Linked DNA regions of Homo sapiens: region 1 is linked to region 2. Evidence: fine-mapped expression QTL. Tissue or cell type: whole blood. Region 2 holds a variant in brackets; the other region holds the start of a gene. All regions are shown on one strand. Distances are between the middles of the regions.

Region 1 (8,122 bases), 21 kb before region 2:
TAGGATGTTGAGAGCCCAACAAACCTACTACGTACGTTCATGGCCTTGACAATCCCAATAGCCAGCTAATTCCACCATGCTCCAAACACCCAGGGAGGTCTCTTGATCATCTTGCTTTGCTCATACTTTTTTCTCCAACTGTCTTTACAGGTGACTTCACTTGCTGTCTCCACTTCTTCCCCTCGCGCTTTTTCCTCAATCCACATAATTCTGGCTTGAACCATTATAACAACAACCTCCACCACCTTCCCTACCATTATTGGCATCACCACCATCTTTACCTCCACTATCAACATAACCACCACCGCCACTATTTTCACTCCCATCTTCATCACCACTGCTATCACAGCCTTCATCACCATCACAACAGTCACCTTCACTACAACTGTCACCATCAATCACCATCATCACCACCATCTCTGAAAACATCACTGTGATGTTACCACCACCATTGCTACTACCACCGTCGTCACTTTCGTCACCTTCAGCCCCATCGCAACCATCATCATCACCACCATCATCACTTCCGTCATCACCACCACGACCTCTACCACCACCATCGCTACTGCCACTACCATGATGACCACCATCACCACTGCAACCATTCTATCACCATCATCATCACCACCACAACCGTTATTATCATCATCATCATCACCATGTTAGATATGAGTTCTAAATTTATTTTCAAAGAATTAATATGTCAGTATGTTCAATTCTTTGCCTTCTACTTTTAAACTTAACTTCCTCGTAAAGCAGCTTTTTCGATTACCTACTCCACCCTGACTCATTCTGATCACCTGCTCCACCCTAACTCATTCCGATTACCTGCTACCTGCTCTGCCCTGACTCCCGCCAAAGCACTCACCCCGTCATTCTCTTTAAATTAGCCAATCGGCATTAGTTTAGCCTGCGCGGTCTAATCCTAGCCAATAGGGGAACGACACAGCAGCAGGGGCCACCTGAGTCAGGGATAAGAACCCCTTCCCCTCCCATGTCCGAATGTGCGCTCGCCACTGTTCCATCTGTAAGGGCACACCCTTCTATATTGAAGTAACTTGCCTTGCTGAGAATTAAAAGGAAAATTTTATATTCAAGTGCTATTTCTTTCACGTCACCGAAACTTTATATATAACAACCACCACCACAACCGCTATCATCAGCATCAGCATCATCACCACCACCACCACCTTCACTACTGTAATTGTTCATGCTAAGAATACAAACAACCCCCTTGCAGCTCTCTCCTGTGGGTGTCTTTCAGTCTTAATTCAGTGTGATCTCTTTCCTTTACCTCCATAATACCATACTCCATTCATTTCCCACCCCCACCCCTCATCTCTCTGGCCATTCTCGTCCTGTCTCCTCTATTAGCTGCCTCTCCATTCCTTTATTTTTTTTAATTTTTTTCTATTGCCTTTGCACAAATTAACATTGCCTGAGTTTTTAAATGAATTACTCAGGGTTCTTTTTCCACTCTATAATCTCTCCCTAAATGATTTAATCCATGACCGTGTCTTCAGTTGCCACCAGGGCTACTTTCTTGCAGTGGTTTTTTTGTTTGTTTGCCTGTTTGTTTGTTCCTTTTTGTTCCTGTTGTATCTAGTGATACAAGAGCTAAAAAGATATTATTCAGGCAACTGGTGAGGGTAAGAGAGTCCTCAGTAAGGCTTCCCTGTTAACAAAAAGCAGCCCCAAAATCATTTCTTTTCGTCTTTACCTCCACTACCAATATAACCACCACCTTTGCTATTTTCACCCCATCATTATCACCACTGCTATCACAGCCTTCGTCACCATCACCACAACAATCACCTTCACTGCAGCTGTCACCTTCAATCACCATCATCACCACCATCTCTGAAAATATCACCATAATGTAACCATCACCATCGCTACTACCATCACCGTCACTTTCATCATCTTCACCATCATCGCAACCATCGTCATCATCACCATCATCCCTTCCTTCATCGTCACCACCACCACCTATAGCTCCACCATCACTCCTGCCACTACCATGATTACCACCATCACCACCACAACCGTTATTATCACCATCATCATCATCACCACCACGACAAAGAGCAGTCTGCAAAATCGAGCTACAAACATAAATAAGCAAGCTGGAAGTTTGCAAAGGTAAATGCAGCGGCTGTGCCAATAGGAAAAGGCTTCCTGGGGGCAGGCATGTTCAACATGGAGGTTCCCTCTTCCCTTTTTTTTTTTTTTTTTTTTTTTTGAGACAGAGTCTCGCTCTTTCGCCCAGGCCAGACTGCAGTGGCGCTATCTCGGGTCACTGCAAGCCCCGCCTTCCGGGTTCACGCCATTCTCCTGCCTCAGCCTCCCGAGTAGCTGGGACTACAGGCGCCCGCCACCGCGCCCGGCTAATTTTTTGTATTTTTAGTAGAGACGGGGTTTCACCATGTTCCCTTTTCTTTATCACCACGTGTGCAGTAAAAAAGCAGGCAACATAGTGCCAGCCAGGTAGAGACCCCATCTGCATAGTAAAAGATGAGGATGGGGCGGCCAGCTTCTTTGCGTGCTATGCAAACAGCACACCCAGTCCGACCAATCTCTCGGTTCCTGTGTAAATCAGACAGCTCCTCCTCAAGCTCGGCTATAAAACCCCATGTATTTCACCACGAGACCAGAAGACTCACTTGGGAGCCCCTCTCTCTCTGCAGGATAGAGCTTTTCTCTTTTTTCTCTTCTCTTGCCTGTTAAACTTCTGCTCTGAAACTCACTTTTTTTTTTTTTTTTTTAGATGAAGTCTCACTCTGTCACCCAGGCTGGAAGGAACTGGCGCAATCTTCGCTCACGGCAACCTCTGCCTCCCGGGTTCAAACAATTCTCCCGCTTCAGCCTTCCGAGTAGCTGGGATTACAGGCATGCGCCACCATGCCCAGCTAATTTTTGTATTTTTAGTACAGACAGGGTTTCACCATGTTGGCTTGGCTGGTCTTGAACTCCTGACCTCAGGTGATCCGCCCGTCTCAGCCTCCCAAAGTGCTGGGATTACAAGGGTGAGCCACAGTGCTCGGCCTTAAATTCACTTCTTGTGCATCCGCATCCTTGATTTACTTGGCATGAGAGGATGAACCCCAGACAACAACACTGCTTCAGTAGGAAGTCTGGTGTTTTAAGTCTAATGAAGAGCTTCAGAAGAGTTTTAAGCAGGGGAGCCGGGTGCAGTGGCTCACACCGGTAATCTCAACACTGGGAGACTGAGGCAGAAGGATTGCTTGAGCCCAGAAATTCAAGACAAGCCTGGGCTACAAAGCGAGGCCCTGTCTCTCTTCAAAAAAAAAAATAAAAACTAAAAAAAATTAGCCAGGCGTGGTGGCATGCACCTGTAGTCCTAACGATTCAGAGGACTGAGGTGGGAGGATCGCTGGAGCCCAGGAGTTTGAGGTTGCAGTGAGCTATGATTGTGCCACGGCACTCCAGCCTGGGTAACAGAGCAAGACCCACATAAATAAATAAATAAATATTTGCTGGAGGAAGGGTAGATTTACAGACTTTTTCTCCCAAGTCCTGTGACTGGTTAGGGTTGGTCCAAATAACCAAATAATGTATTACCTTCTATGAGACTTTGGGACTCTTAACTTCTTATGGCTCAGCAATCATAACCAGTAAGTATCATCTACTGGGGGAAGAGAAAGATATGTTAAAATGACTCCTCTGGAAACTTCAGATACCAACACAGACACCCTAAAATCTGGTTTACTCACCTCAAAGCCACAGGCTTATTTAAGATTTATTTTGGCCCCAAAGGCACTTCCTAATCCTCAGACAATGTGATGTAACTTTCAGGGCATTTCCTCGTTAGGGTTTACCAACTCAATCATCCCAAAGGTGATCAACAATAGCTAGGCAGAAAAGGTACAGCAAATAAACGAAAAGCAGAACCATGAGTCTGATGGCGAAAGAGGGGAAGCAGTTTGCTTTTCTGATAGCAATTTCATGAGTCAGCTGACCTAAGATACATACTTCAATTCTCATGGGATTTCTTGAGCTAGGAAAGGTGGTTGGCTTACGGCACAGTAGAGAGCTTCCAGGGCTGGCTGGCGTGGGATACCCGTACCACAGAAATGCAGGGACCATTGCTTCTTCCAGGTATGTGTGACTGTAACAATGACTGAGGCTTAACCTATCCCCCAGTCAGGGACCACTTGGTTCAACAATTGGTTATTTTCTCCTCCTCTTTCTTCTGCTCTGAACACTCTCACCTTTTCCCTTTGGAGTGTGGTTTCCTTCCTGACTACCCTATTCAAAGTATGCTCTCGAATATCCCTAAAATGTTCCTATCCAATCTAGTAGCTTGGTTTTTTGTTTGTTTTGTTTGTTTGTTTTGTTTTGTTTTTTGAGACAGAATCTCACTCTGTCACCCAGGTTGGAGTGCAGTGGCGCAATCTTGACTCACTGAAACCTCTGCCTCCCGGGTTCAAGTGATTCTCCTGCCTCAGCCTCCTGAGTAGCTGGGATTACAGGCACACATCACCACACCTGGCTAATTTTTGTATTTTTAGTAGAGATGGGGTTTCACCATGTTGCCCTGGCTGGTCTCGAACTCCTGACCTCAGGTGATCCACCCGCCTCAGCCTGCCAAAGTGCTAGGATTACAGGCATGAGCCACCGCACCCGGTCTCTAATACGTTGTTCATCTTCCTCTTGGCAAGTTTTGTTTTCTAATTGATGTCTTCTCCTTCTTGATAACTTCTGCAAACTAGCCCTGCCCTGACTTTTTTCCTTTTTCTCTTGCTATTCTTTCTTCTCCCTCCTTTATCATTTTCCTGTGACAAGAAAATAAATGATAATTTTATTATTAATTTTAGAGGTCATTATATTAAGTGAAATAACTCAAACACCAAAAGACAAATGCCTCATGTTCTTGTTTATCAGTGGGAGCTAAATAATGTGGACACATGGACATAGAGAGTAGAATGATAGACGATGAAGACTGGGAAGGCTGAGGGAGTAGAAGGACAGTGGAAAATAAGAAGTTACCTAATGGTTACAATGTACATCATTTGGATGGTGGATACTCTAAAAGCCCTGACTTCACCACTATGAAATCTATGCGTGTAACAAAATTACACTTGTATCCCATAAATTTATACAAAGAAAATAATGATAACCAACATTTTTGAAAACTCACTATGCACCTTACATGTATTAATCTGTTGCATCATCAGTATGCTCATGGGGTATCCTCATCTTACAGATAAGAAAACTGGGGCACAGGTTATGTTATTTGTCCAACATCACACAGCTAGTAAATAAGAGAGCTGGGATTTGAATCCAAACCATCTGTCTCCAGATCTTTGCTATAATGCTCCTCCCACAGGATCCTTACTGGGATCTTCTGTTTTTCTACTCCCTCTCCCTATGGGAATCTCCTAATTCCATGGCTTCAACCACCATCTCTGTACGGATGAAATCCCATCCATCTTTCCAGCTCCAGATGAATTAACAATATTGATAGTCCCAATATCAATCAAAGCTTACATTTATTAAGCAGCTACTTTAGCCTGGCATTAGGCTTAAATTGCTTTACATTGTCACATAGCATCTGCACATTACAGATAAGAAATTGCATCATAGAGAGGTTCTGTGAATTTCTCAAAGCCTCACAGCTATTCTGCTGCAGAGGCAGCTGATAGGCTGTAAATTCTATCAAAATAATACAAGCTACACTTAAATCCTAATGCCATGTCTCCCTCACCTTTGCAACCCCTAGCATAGCATCTTATATATAAGAGGTGTTTCAGTATATGTGGAATCAAATGTGAAAGAAGCCTGCCTTTTTGCAACTGGAGACAGAGTCCTCCACACTTCTGAGGTGGATTATTAGTGAATTTTGGTTATCCAGGAACTTTTAGCCCATATCACTGGATGGTACAGGCAAGGGTGATGATATGAGCATTGGGTCAAGAATTAGGATTCCAGGGTTGGGCATGGAGGCTCATACCTATAATCCCAAAGCTTTGGAAGGCAAGGCGGGAAGATTGCTTGAGCCAGGAGTTCAAGACCAGACTGAGCAACATAGCAAGACTCTGTCTCCAAGAAACATTAAAAAAAAAAATTAGCCAGTCATGGTGGCACACACCTGCAGTCCCAGCTACCCTGGAGGCTGAGGTGGGAGGATCGCTTGAGCTCAGGAGTTCAAGGTTACAATGAGCTGTGATTGCATCACTGCACTCCAGCCTGAGCAACAGAGCTCAAATGATAATATAGGCAGCAAGCTAGAGCAATTAGGCAAAAAGAGAGAAAGAAAAAGCATCCAAATGGGAAAGGAGGAAGTCAGATGGTGACAGAGGCAGCCAGTATCAGTGGAGGACTTCCTGCCTGACATTGTGCTCTACACAGTCCCTCATTTAGGTCATCTCCAAAACCCCACAAAGTAGGTCATACTGCCACCCTATTTCACATAAGGAAGCTTAGAGAAGTTAAACAACTTACCCAAATTTGCCCAACTAGTGTGCCAGCCACTTAACCCCAGGGGACCTGTTTCCTCATCTACAAAATAAGTCAGTGGATGATTTCTAAAGTTTCTTAGAACTCTGGGATTCTGACACACCGATGACTCTTCAGAAACCCTAACTTAAGACCTTTGCCCAAATTAGTGAGTACAGGCTTGCTGGTTAGACTAAAGACTAGTCTTAAGGAAACATGATGGTCCCCCAGACTGCCTGAGTTTTAGGAACAGGGTAACACTATTCAGCCATATGGTTTATCAGTTGGCCCTGTGAGCTAGTCATCATTTGGGCAGGCGTAAGGTTTGTGTGGCTGCTACACATTCATGTATATACAAAAGAAGAAAGTGCCTCACGCATATAATGCCAACACTTTGGGAGGCCACAGAAGGAGGATCACTTGAGGCCAACAGTTCAAGACCAGCTCGGTCAACACAGCAAGACCCAATCTCTACCAAAAAAATTTTTTTTAATTGGCCACAAGTGGTATCTCATGCATGTAGCCCAGGAGTTCAAGGCTACAGTGAGGTATGATTGCACCACTGCACTCCAACCGGGGCAACAGAAAAAGAACCTGCCTCAAAAAAATAAAAATAAAAATAAAAAATGTAGAAGGAAGGGGACTTTAAAGGAAACATCAGCCTGACATTAAGCCCAGCTGAGAATATTCAAAATGTTCTGTGAATGCAATTGCATAAGTAACTGATCACAAACCAGACCTGGCATCTTCTTGGGGGAAGGGTGAGAATTACAGGAAGAAAAATAACAGTCCCCCCAGAGACATCCACATCCTAATCCCTGGAACCTGTTAATATGTTACCTTACATGGTAAAAGAAACTTTGCAGATGTTGATTAAGATAAGAATCTTAATATGGGGGTAGTACCCTGAATTTTCCAGGGGGCCTAATATAATAATCACAAAGGTCCTCTTAAGAGGGAGGTGGAAGATCAGGAAGACGAGAAGATGCTGTGCTGCTGGATTTAAAGAAGGAGGAAGGGTCCGTGAGCCAAGAAATGCAGGCAGCTTCTAGAAGCTGGAAAAGGCAAGGAGACAGATTCTCCCCTAGAGCTTCCAAAAGAAACCAGCCCTACTAACATTCTTGATTTTAGCCTATAGAGGCTGATTTAAGACTTCTGACTTCCAGACCTGTAAGAGAATAATAAATCAGTGTTGTTTTAAGCCACTACAGTCATGGTAATTTGTGATAGCAGCAATTGGAAACTCAAGAGAGAGATCCAGAAGGATTTAGATTGCTGCCATTACCTCTCCTGAAGAGTCACACAGTTAGCCCCCAGGGCCTCTTCTCCAAAATCCTACAATTGGTCTGCACTGCCCTAAATGACCAAGTCACATACCACTCTCTACGGGACTTTGAGGCTCCAGTCAGATCTGGTGAGTGGCATCTGCCGGGGGAAAAAAGGACAAGTCACTGTCACAATAAACATGCCAACCTACAGTGTCTACAATCTGAACAGCACTTCCATGCAGGTAGTGCCCTGTGGGATTTCTGAAGGAGAGGCTATGTGGTGTAATGGGTTATCAGCTAGAACCCAGAACCCGTGTTTAACCTCAGCTCTGCCACTGACTAGCCCCAGTGAATGGAGCAAGTTACTTACCTTCTCTGTGCCTCCATTTCTTAAT
Region 2 (8,000 bases):
ATGACAGTGTGTGAGTGTGTGTGTATGAGCGTGTGTGTGTTGCCATCTAAAGACAGGAATCTATCCCAGACCAAGAAAGACAGGCCAAGAGAGAGTATATTAAGGCCTGCTGCACTGCTGCAAAAGACATCCAAGTATCCAATGGTATCCATTATTGTCTCCGGCCAACTGACGGCATTTATATAAATATGTGATTACATCATGTAATCAATCCCTAGACTGTGAGCTTTTTGAGGAAGGGAATAAGACCAACCCCAAATTAGGAGTTCAAGGAATGATCACTGAAGTAATGAACAAATAAAGAATCAAGTAATCAGGCCGGGCATGGCGGCTAATGCCTGTAATCCCAGCACTTTGGGAGGTGGGTGGATCACCCGAGGTCAGAAGTTCAAGACCAGCCTGGCCAACATGATGAAACCCCCATGTCTACAAAAAACACAAAAATTAGCCGGGCATGGGGGCGCATGCCTGTAATCCCAGCTACTCAGGAGGCTGAAGCAGGAGAATCACTTGAACCCAGGAGGCAGAGGTTGCAGTGAGCTGAGATCACGTCACTGCACTCCAGCCTGGGCAACAGAGTAAGACTCCATCTCAAAAATAAATAAATAAATACACAATGATATAGGAGTTAAGAAGAAATTACTTAGGCAGATGGTGAGGGTACGGAAGTCCTCAGTGAGGTTTTCCTTTTAATGAAGAGCAGCCCCAAATTTTCTTTTCTAACAAAGAGCAGCCTGTAAAATCAAGCTGCGGACATAGACAAGCAAGCTGGAAGCTTATGGGTCAATGCCAGCAGCTGTGCCAATAGGAAAAGGCTGCCTGGGACTAGACATGATCAAAATGGCAGCTCCATCTTCCCTTCTCTTTGCCAGTCACGTGTACAGTAAGGAGCAGACAAGATGGTACTGGCCAAGTGGGTAGGGCAACCAGCCTTCCCCGAGCAGTAAGTAAATGTCGCACCTGGCCCAACCAATCTGTGGGCCCTACATAATTCAGACACCGCCTCCTCAGCCTGACTATAAAATCTAGTGCCTGAATATAAAATCTAGTCGGTGGGCAGGATTTTGCTTTCTTTCGGGCATCCCTCTCTCTCGCAAGGGAGAGAGCTGTTCTACTTTCTTTTTTTTTTTTCTTTTCTTTTTTTTTTTTTTTTGAGATGGAGTCTCACTCTGTCACCCAGGCTGGAGTGCAGTGATGTGATCTCGGCTCACTACAACATCTGCCTCCTCTGCCTTCCAGGTTCAAGCGATTCTCCTGCCTCAGCATCCCAACTAGCTGGGATTACAGGCACGCGCCACCATGCCCGGCTAATTTTGTATTTTCAGTAGAGATGGGGTTTCACCATGTTGGTCAGACTGGTCTTGAACTCCTGACCTCAGATGATCCACCCCCCTCGGCCTTCCAAAGTTCTGGGATTACAGGCATGAGCCACCGCACCCTGCCCTCTTTTCTTTTTCTTTTGCCTATTAAACCTCCACTCCTAAACTCACTCCTCGTGTGTGTCCATGTCCTTCATCTTGGCGCAAGATGACAAACTCTGGGTATTTACCCCAGACAGTGACGCTGCTTCAATAGTGGCAACCACTCCCTTGTTGCGACAGTGACAACCGAAAATGTCTCCAGCCATCGCCACATGTGCCCTGTGGAGGGAGTAGCAGAATCACCCCCCCGTTGAGAACCACTGGTCTATTTCTAACAAACTTATCACTACCTTGTTGGCAAAAAACGTTAATAATAACTAACCCAATCAGGCACGGTGGCTCACTCCTATAATCCCATCACTTTGGAAGGCCAAGGCAGGAGAATCGTTTGAGCCCAGGAGTTCCAGACCAGCCTGGGCAACATAGCAAGACCCTGTCTATACAAAAAAAAAAATTAAAAAAATTAAGCAAGCATGGCGGTGTGCACCTGTAATCCCAGCTACTCAGGAGACTGAAGCATGAGAATCACTTGAACCCAGGAGCTGGAGGTTGCAGTGAGCCAAGATCCCACCACTGCACTCTAGCCTGGGCGACAGAGCAATACTCTGTCTCAAAAATAATAATAGTGACTCACCCTTACATAGCTTTTACCAGATACAGACACTGTCCTAAAAGAAGAGCATCTGTTAACTCATTTAATCCTCCAGAAAAACCCTTTGAGTTCCTTTTCCTGTCGTGGGGCACAGAGTGATTGAGTGACTTGCCCAAGGTCACAAAGCTGGGACATGATGAAGTGCCAGGATTTGAACGTGGTTCCTCCAGCTCCAGAGCCTGCTTTCTCATGCTTTCTACTGTTCTTTTGGATATGGGACTTACCAGATTACATTTTTAAAAAATGAAAATTCTTTATGTCTTCAAAGCTGCAAAAGATTGTGGACAAATTTGAGTCACTTCTCACCAATCAGACTTTATGGAGAACAGAAGGGAGACAAGAAATCTCATCCACAGCTACCACTATTCTCCGGGATGTGGAATCGAAAGTTCTAGAAACTGCCTTGAAAGATCCAGAACAAAAAGTCCTGAAAATCCAAAACGATAGTGTAGGTAAGACAATAATGAGGACTGATACACCCTGGGGACTGGTTAGCAGCTGGGATCTGGGTTAGGCAATTAGAAAAAAAAAATTGAATACACCACATGAGTCCCTTTATGTAAATTACAAAAATTTATATAAATTCTAGAAAACGCAAACTTATCTAGAGTGACAGGGAGGGGCAGGAGGGAGGGGTGGCAGAGGCATGAGAAAATCTGGGGAAACTATTAGGGGTGATGGAAATCTTCCTGCCTTGATTGTGGTGTTGATTTCAGAGGTGTGTGCACCCAACAAAACTCACCAGATTGTACACTTTAATATGTGCAGTTGGTTAGACATCAATTATACCTCAATAAAGTTGTTTATTCAGAAGATTGCCAATAGTTTCCAATCCCAGGTCTGGAATTTTCACTTAAATGTAGTTTGAGGACCAGGCATGATGGCTCACGACTGTATTCCCAGCACTTTGGGAGGCTGAGGCGGGAGGGTTAATTCAGCCCAGGAGCTCAAGACTGGCCTGGGCAACATAGCAAGACCCCCATCTCTTTAAAAAAAATTTAAAATTTGCCAGGTGCAGTGGCTTGTACCTGTGGTCTCAGCTACTTGGGAGGCTGAGGGAGAGGATGGCTTGAGTCCAGGAGTTTGAGGGTGCAGTGAACTATGATCATGCCATTGCCACTCCAACCTGGATGACAGAACAAGAACCTGTCTCATTAAAAAAAAAAAAAAAACAGGTTTTGGGCTGGGCATGGTGGCTTACACCTATAATCCCAGCACTTTGGGAGGCCAAGGTGGGTGGATCACTTGAGGCCAGTAGTTTGAGATCAGCCTGGGCAACATGGTGAAACTTAATCTTTACTAAAAATACAGAAATTAGCGGGGCGTGGTAGCTCATGACTGTAATCCCAGCTACTCCAGAGGCTGAGGTGGGAGAATCACTTGAACTGGGGAGGCAGAGGTTGCAGTGAGCCGAGATCACATCACTGCACTCCAGCCTGGGTGACAGAGCAAGACTCCATCTTAAATTAAAAAAAAAAAAAAAAAAAACACACACACAGCAGGCTTTGAAAAAGTCAGTGCCTATTCTTCTTGGAAAACTGGAATCTGGATACTTTGGTTCAAAATTAAACCATTTTCCAGATTGCAAGTAAATCTCATCTCTCCTGATTTTGCCACGTCCTAACTGTTTGATCTGAGACCAGTGCCCTCACCTCATTGGGCTTCATTCTCCTGTCAATAAAATGAGGATAATATTAGCTGGACATGGTGGTGTGCAAATGAGGTCCCAGCTACTTAGGAGGCTGAGGTGGGAGGATCGCTTGAGCCCAGGAGTTCGAGGCTGCAGTGAGCTGAGATTGCACCACTGCACTCCAGCCTGGACAACAGAGTGAGAGCCTGTCTCAAAAAAAAATTTTAATAGAGATAATGAAAGTGCATGTAATGCACCTAGGACTAGGATCCCTCAGAAGCTAAACGACTCAAACTTTTAAGAAAGAAGAAAAACTACGGTAGTAATTGCTATAATTATGATTATTCTATCTTTCCACTCTTTAATATTATGAAATATTGTCAAAATAGTGTCATTCTTTTTTACAGGAAACACATAGTTTAATGTAGAAAATATTAAATAATATAAAAACAAGTCAAATTGAGGTTTGATAAAAATGACAAAGAGTAACAAGCGATAATATAATGGATGATGAAATTAACATTGTGGGCAGGATGAGGTGGCTCATCCTGTAATCCTAGCACTTTTGGAGGCTAAGGCAGGCGGATCACTTGAGGTCAGGAGTTCGAGATCAGCCTGGCCAACATGGTGAAACCCTGTTTCTACTAAAAAAAATTAGCCAGGCGTGGTGGTGCATGCCTGTAATCCCAGCTACTTGTGAGGCTGAGGAAGGAGAATCGCTTGAACCCGGGGGACAGAGGTTGCAGTTAGCTGAGAGCAAGCCACTGCACTCCAGCCTGGGCAAAAGAGCAAGACTCCATCTCAAAAATAATAATAATAACAATAAATTCACTTACACTGAGCTCAAGAATTTCTATTCATTAAAAC[G/A]TACTAAATGAATGAAACAGTAGGCCAAAAACATTAATACATAATTAGAGTAAATACTTGTAAACTTTTCAAAAACTGAGAGTCAATATTAGACAAACCAGTAGTAGTTTCTAGAATGTCATTAATGTCATTCTTTTTTTTTTTTTCTTTTTTTTTTTTTGAGATGGAGTCTCATTCTATTGCCCAGGCTGGAATGCAGTGGCATGATCTAGGTCACTGCAACCTCTGCCTCCTGGGTTCAAGCAATTCTCCTGCCTCAGCCTTCCTAGTAGCTGGGATTAAAGGTGCCTGCCACCATGACCAGCTAATTTTTGTGTATTAGTAGAATGGGATTTCACCATGTTGGCCAGGCTGGTCTTGAACTCCTGACCTCAAGCAATCAACTGGCCTCAGCCTGCAAAAGTGCTGGGAATTCAGGCATGAGCCACTGCACCCAGCCATAAAATAGTGTCATTCTTGATGTGCTGTTTTGTTGCTTGCTTCTTTTTTTTTTTAACCTTTTAATATGCACAAAAGGAAATAGGAGAATAAAATCCCTGATGCACCCATCACCCAATTCAACGATTTCCATCTCACAGCCAGTCTTGGGTTGTCTGTTTTTAAGATACATATTTTCATGAGCTTAACATTTTTTAGCTTTATTAAGGTGTAATTGATAAAGAAAATTGTATATATTTAAGGTGTACAATAGGATGACTTGATATACATATATACTGTGGAATGATCACCACAATCAAATTAGCTAACACATCCATCACTCACATGGTTACCTTTTTTCTCATGAGTTTTTCTTGATTGCAATTCATTTGTGACTTTATTTTTATTTGAAGCCCTGGTTCCCCACCACAGAGATATATCATCACTTATTTATTTATTTACTTACTTACTTATTTTTGAGACAGAGTCTCACTCCATCATCCAGGCTGGAGTACAGTGGCGTGATCTCAGCTCACTGCAACCTCTGCCTCCCCGGTTCAAACTATTCTCGTGCCTCAGCCTCCCAAGTAGCTGAGATTACAGGTGCACACCACCATGCCCAGATAATTTTTGTATTTTTAGTAGGGATGGGGTTTCACCATGTTGGCCAGGCTGGTCTTGAACTCCTGGCCTCAAGCAATCCACCTGCCATGGCCTCCCAAAGTGCTGGGATTACAAGCATGAGCCACTGTGCCCAGCCCATATCATCACTTATTTAATCAATCACCTCTTGTTGAACATCTAGATAATCCCCCATTTTCCACCATTATCATCTAAGCTGCTATGAACTTTCTTGTAGCTAAATCTGCCCTCCATCCACAATCGTTTTCTGAGAATAAACTCCTAGAAATAGAACTGTATCTTCAAAGGTGTATGCTAAGAGCTGTTAGTTAAGAACTTGGTTTCAGGAATTAGAGTCTTACCTAACTTCTGACTTCAGTTTCCTCATCTATAGAGTTGTCCCTGATGAAGTTATAGGTTTATAAGGTGACATGTGTAAGACTCTTAGCTCAGTGCCCGACACATCCTAGACATTCAGTATATGTGAGCCATTTATGTTGCTATGAACATTTTTTTTTTAGAGGCAGCATCTCACTGTGTTGCCTGGGCTCAAATTCCTGGGCCCAAGCAATCCTTCTGCCTCAGCCTCTTGAGTAGTTGGGACTACAGGCATGCACCACCATGTCCTGTTCCTATGCATATTTTTAAAGTTTCTTACAATATCACTAAGCCTGCCCATTGCTTTTCTTACCAGCTATTGAAACTCAAGCGATTACAGACAATTGCTCTGAAGAAAGAAAGACATTCAACTTGAACGTCCAAATGAACTCAATGGACATCCGTTGCAGTGACATCATCCAGGGAGACACACAAGGTATGCCTGATGGCTGCATTCAGAATCCTTCACACAGAGCCATGTCATTGTGTGAGTCATGGGGAAACAAGCCCACTGGGCTCTCCCCTCATGGGCTTTTTACCCTCAAACTACGATATTGGAGATTTTCCCTTTAAAAAAAAAAAAAAGACATTTTCCCAAAATGGAGGTTTTCTGTTATTCAGTATGGGAGGGACTTTGCAATTTGGGATGGTGGGGGAGTGCTGTTCTGCCTGTGTCCCGGTTTGGGTTCACCCAGAAGCAAACCCTGAAAGAAGTGTGAGAAGTTTCTTTGGGAGGTGATCCCCAGGAACAACAGTGGGTGTATTCATCAGTGTTCTCCAGAGAATCACAACTAAAGAGCTGAAGAGTGTAGGGTGTGGGGGGGTGTGGGAAGAGGGGAGAGAGAGAGAGAGAGAGAGAGAGAGAGAGAGAGAGAGAGAGAGAGAGAGAGATGGAGACAGAGAGCAAGAGATGAGAGAGATGGAGAGAAACAGATGTGGAGAGGCAGATGGGTAAAGAGAGATGGAGAGAAAGATGGGGAGAGAGGTGGAAAGAGAGACATGGGGAGAGACAGATGGGAAGAGAGAGATGGGGAGAGAAAGATGGAATTAGATGGGGAGAGAGATGTGGAAAGAGAGAGATGGGGAGAGCGATGGAAAGAGAGAGATGGGGACAGCGATGGAAAGAGAGAGAAGGGGAGAGAGATGGAAAGAGAGAAGGGAAGAGAGATGGAAAAAGATAGGGAAAGAGATGGAAAGAGAAAGATGAGAAAAGAGAGATGGGGAGAGTGGTGGAAAGACAGAGATGGGGAGAGAAATGGAAAGAGAGAGAAGGGAAGAGAGATGGAAAGAGAGAGATGGGGACAGAGATGGAGAGGAGAGAGATGCAAAGAGAGAGATGGGGGAGAGAGATAGGAAGAGAGGTGGAAAGAGAGAGATGAGTAGAGAGAGATGGAAAGAGAGAGATGAGGAGAGGGATGGAAAGAGAGAGATGGGGAGAGAGAGATCAAAAGCAAGAGATGGGGAGAGAGATGGGAAGAGAGGGATGGGGAGAGAGATGGAAAGAGAGAGATGGGGAGGGAGAGATGGAGAGAGAGATGGAAAGACAGAGATTGAAAGAGAGAGATGGGGAGAAAGAGATGGAGAGAGATGGAAAGAGAGAGATGGGGAGGGAGAGATGGAGAGAGAGATGGAAAGACAGAGATCGAAAGAGAGAGATGGGGAGAAAGAGATGGAGAGAGATGGAAAGAGAGAGATGGGGAGGGAGAGATGGAGAGAGAGATGGAAAGACAGAGATTGAAAGAGAGAGATGGGGAGAAAGAGATGGAGAGAGATGGAAAGAGAGAGATGGGGAGGGAGAGATGGAGAGAGAGATGGAAAGACAGAGATCGAAAGAGAGAGATGGGGAGAAAGAGATGGAGAGAGATGGAAAGAGAGAGATGGGGAGGGAGAGATGGAGAGAGAGATGGAAAGACAGAGATCGAAAGAGAGAGATGAGGAGAAAGAGATGGAGAGAGATGGAAAGAGAGAGATGGGGAGAAAGAGATGAAAAGAGGGATGGAGAGAGAGAGATGGA

What was found. PIP is the estimated chance that this variant, and not a neighbour inherited with it, causes the effect.
Region 1: ADGRE3 starts here. The variant in region 2 is fine-mapped to the expression of ADGRE3 in whole blood (INTERVAL, PIP 0.96).

Annotation. Positions count from the first base shown.
Region 1 is chr19:14,670,743-14,678,864 of GRCh38, reverse strand. It overlaps ADGRE3 (adhesion G protein-coupled receptor E3), which reads left to right and starts at 4,021. Exons shown (of 16, transcript NM_032571.5): 1 at 4,021-4,119. The coding sequence starts at 4,095.
Region 2 is chr19:14,649,507-14,657,506 of GRCh38, reverse strand. ADGRE3 (adhesion G protein-coupled receptor E3) reads left to right here. Exons shown (of 16, transcript NM_032571.5): 6 at 2,342-2,525; 7 at 6,303-6,422. Among named protein-coding and RNA genes, the nearest start is that of ADGRE3, 21 kb to the left of the region's middle. The variant G/A (reference allele first, on the strand shown) is at 4,571.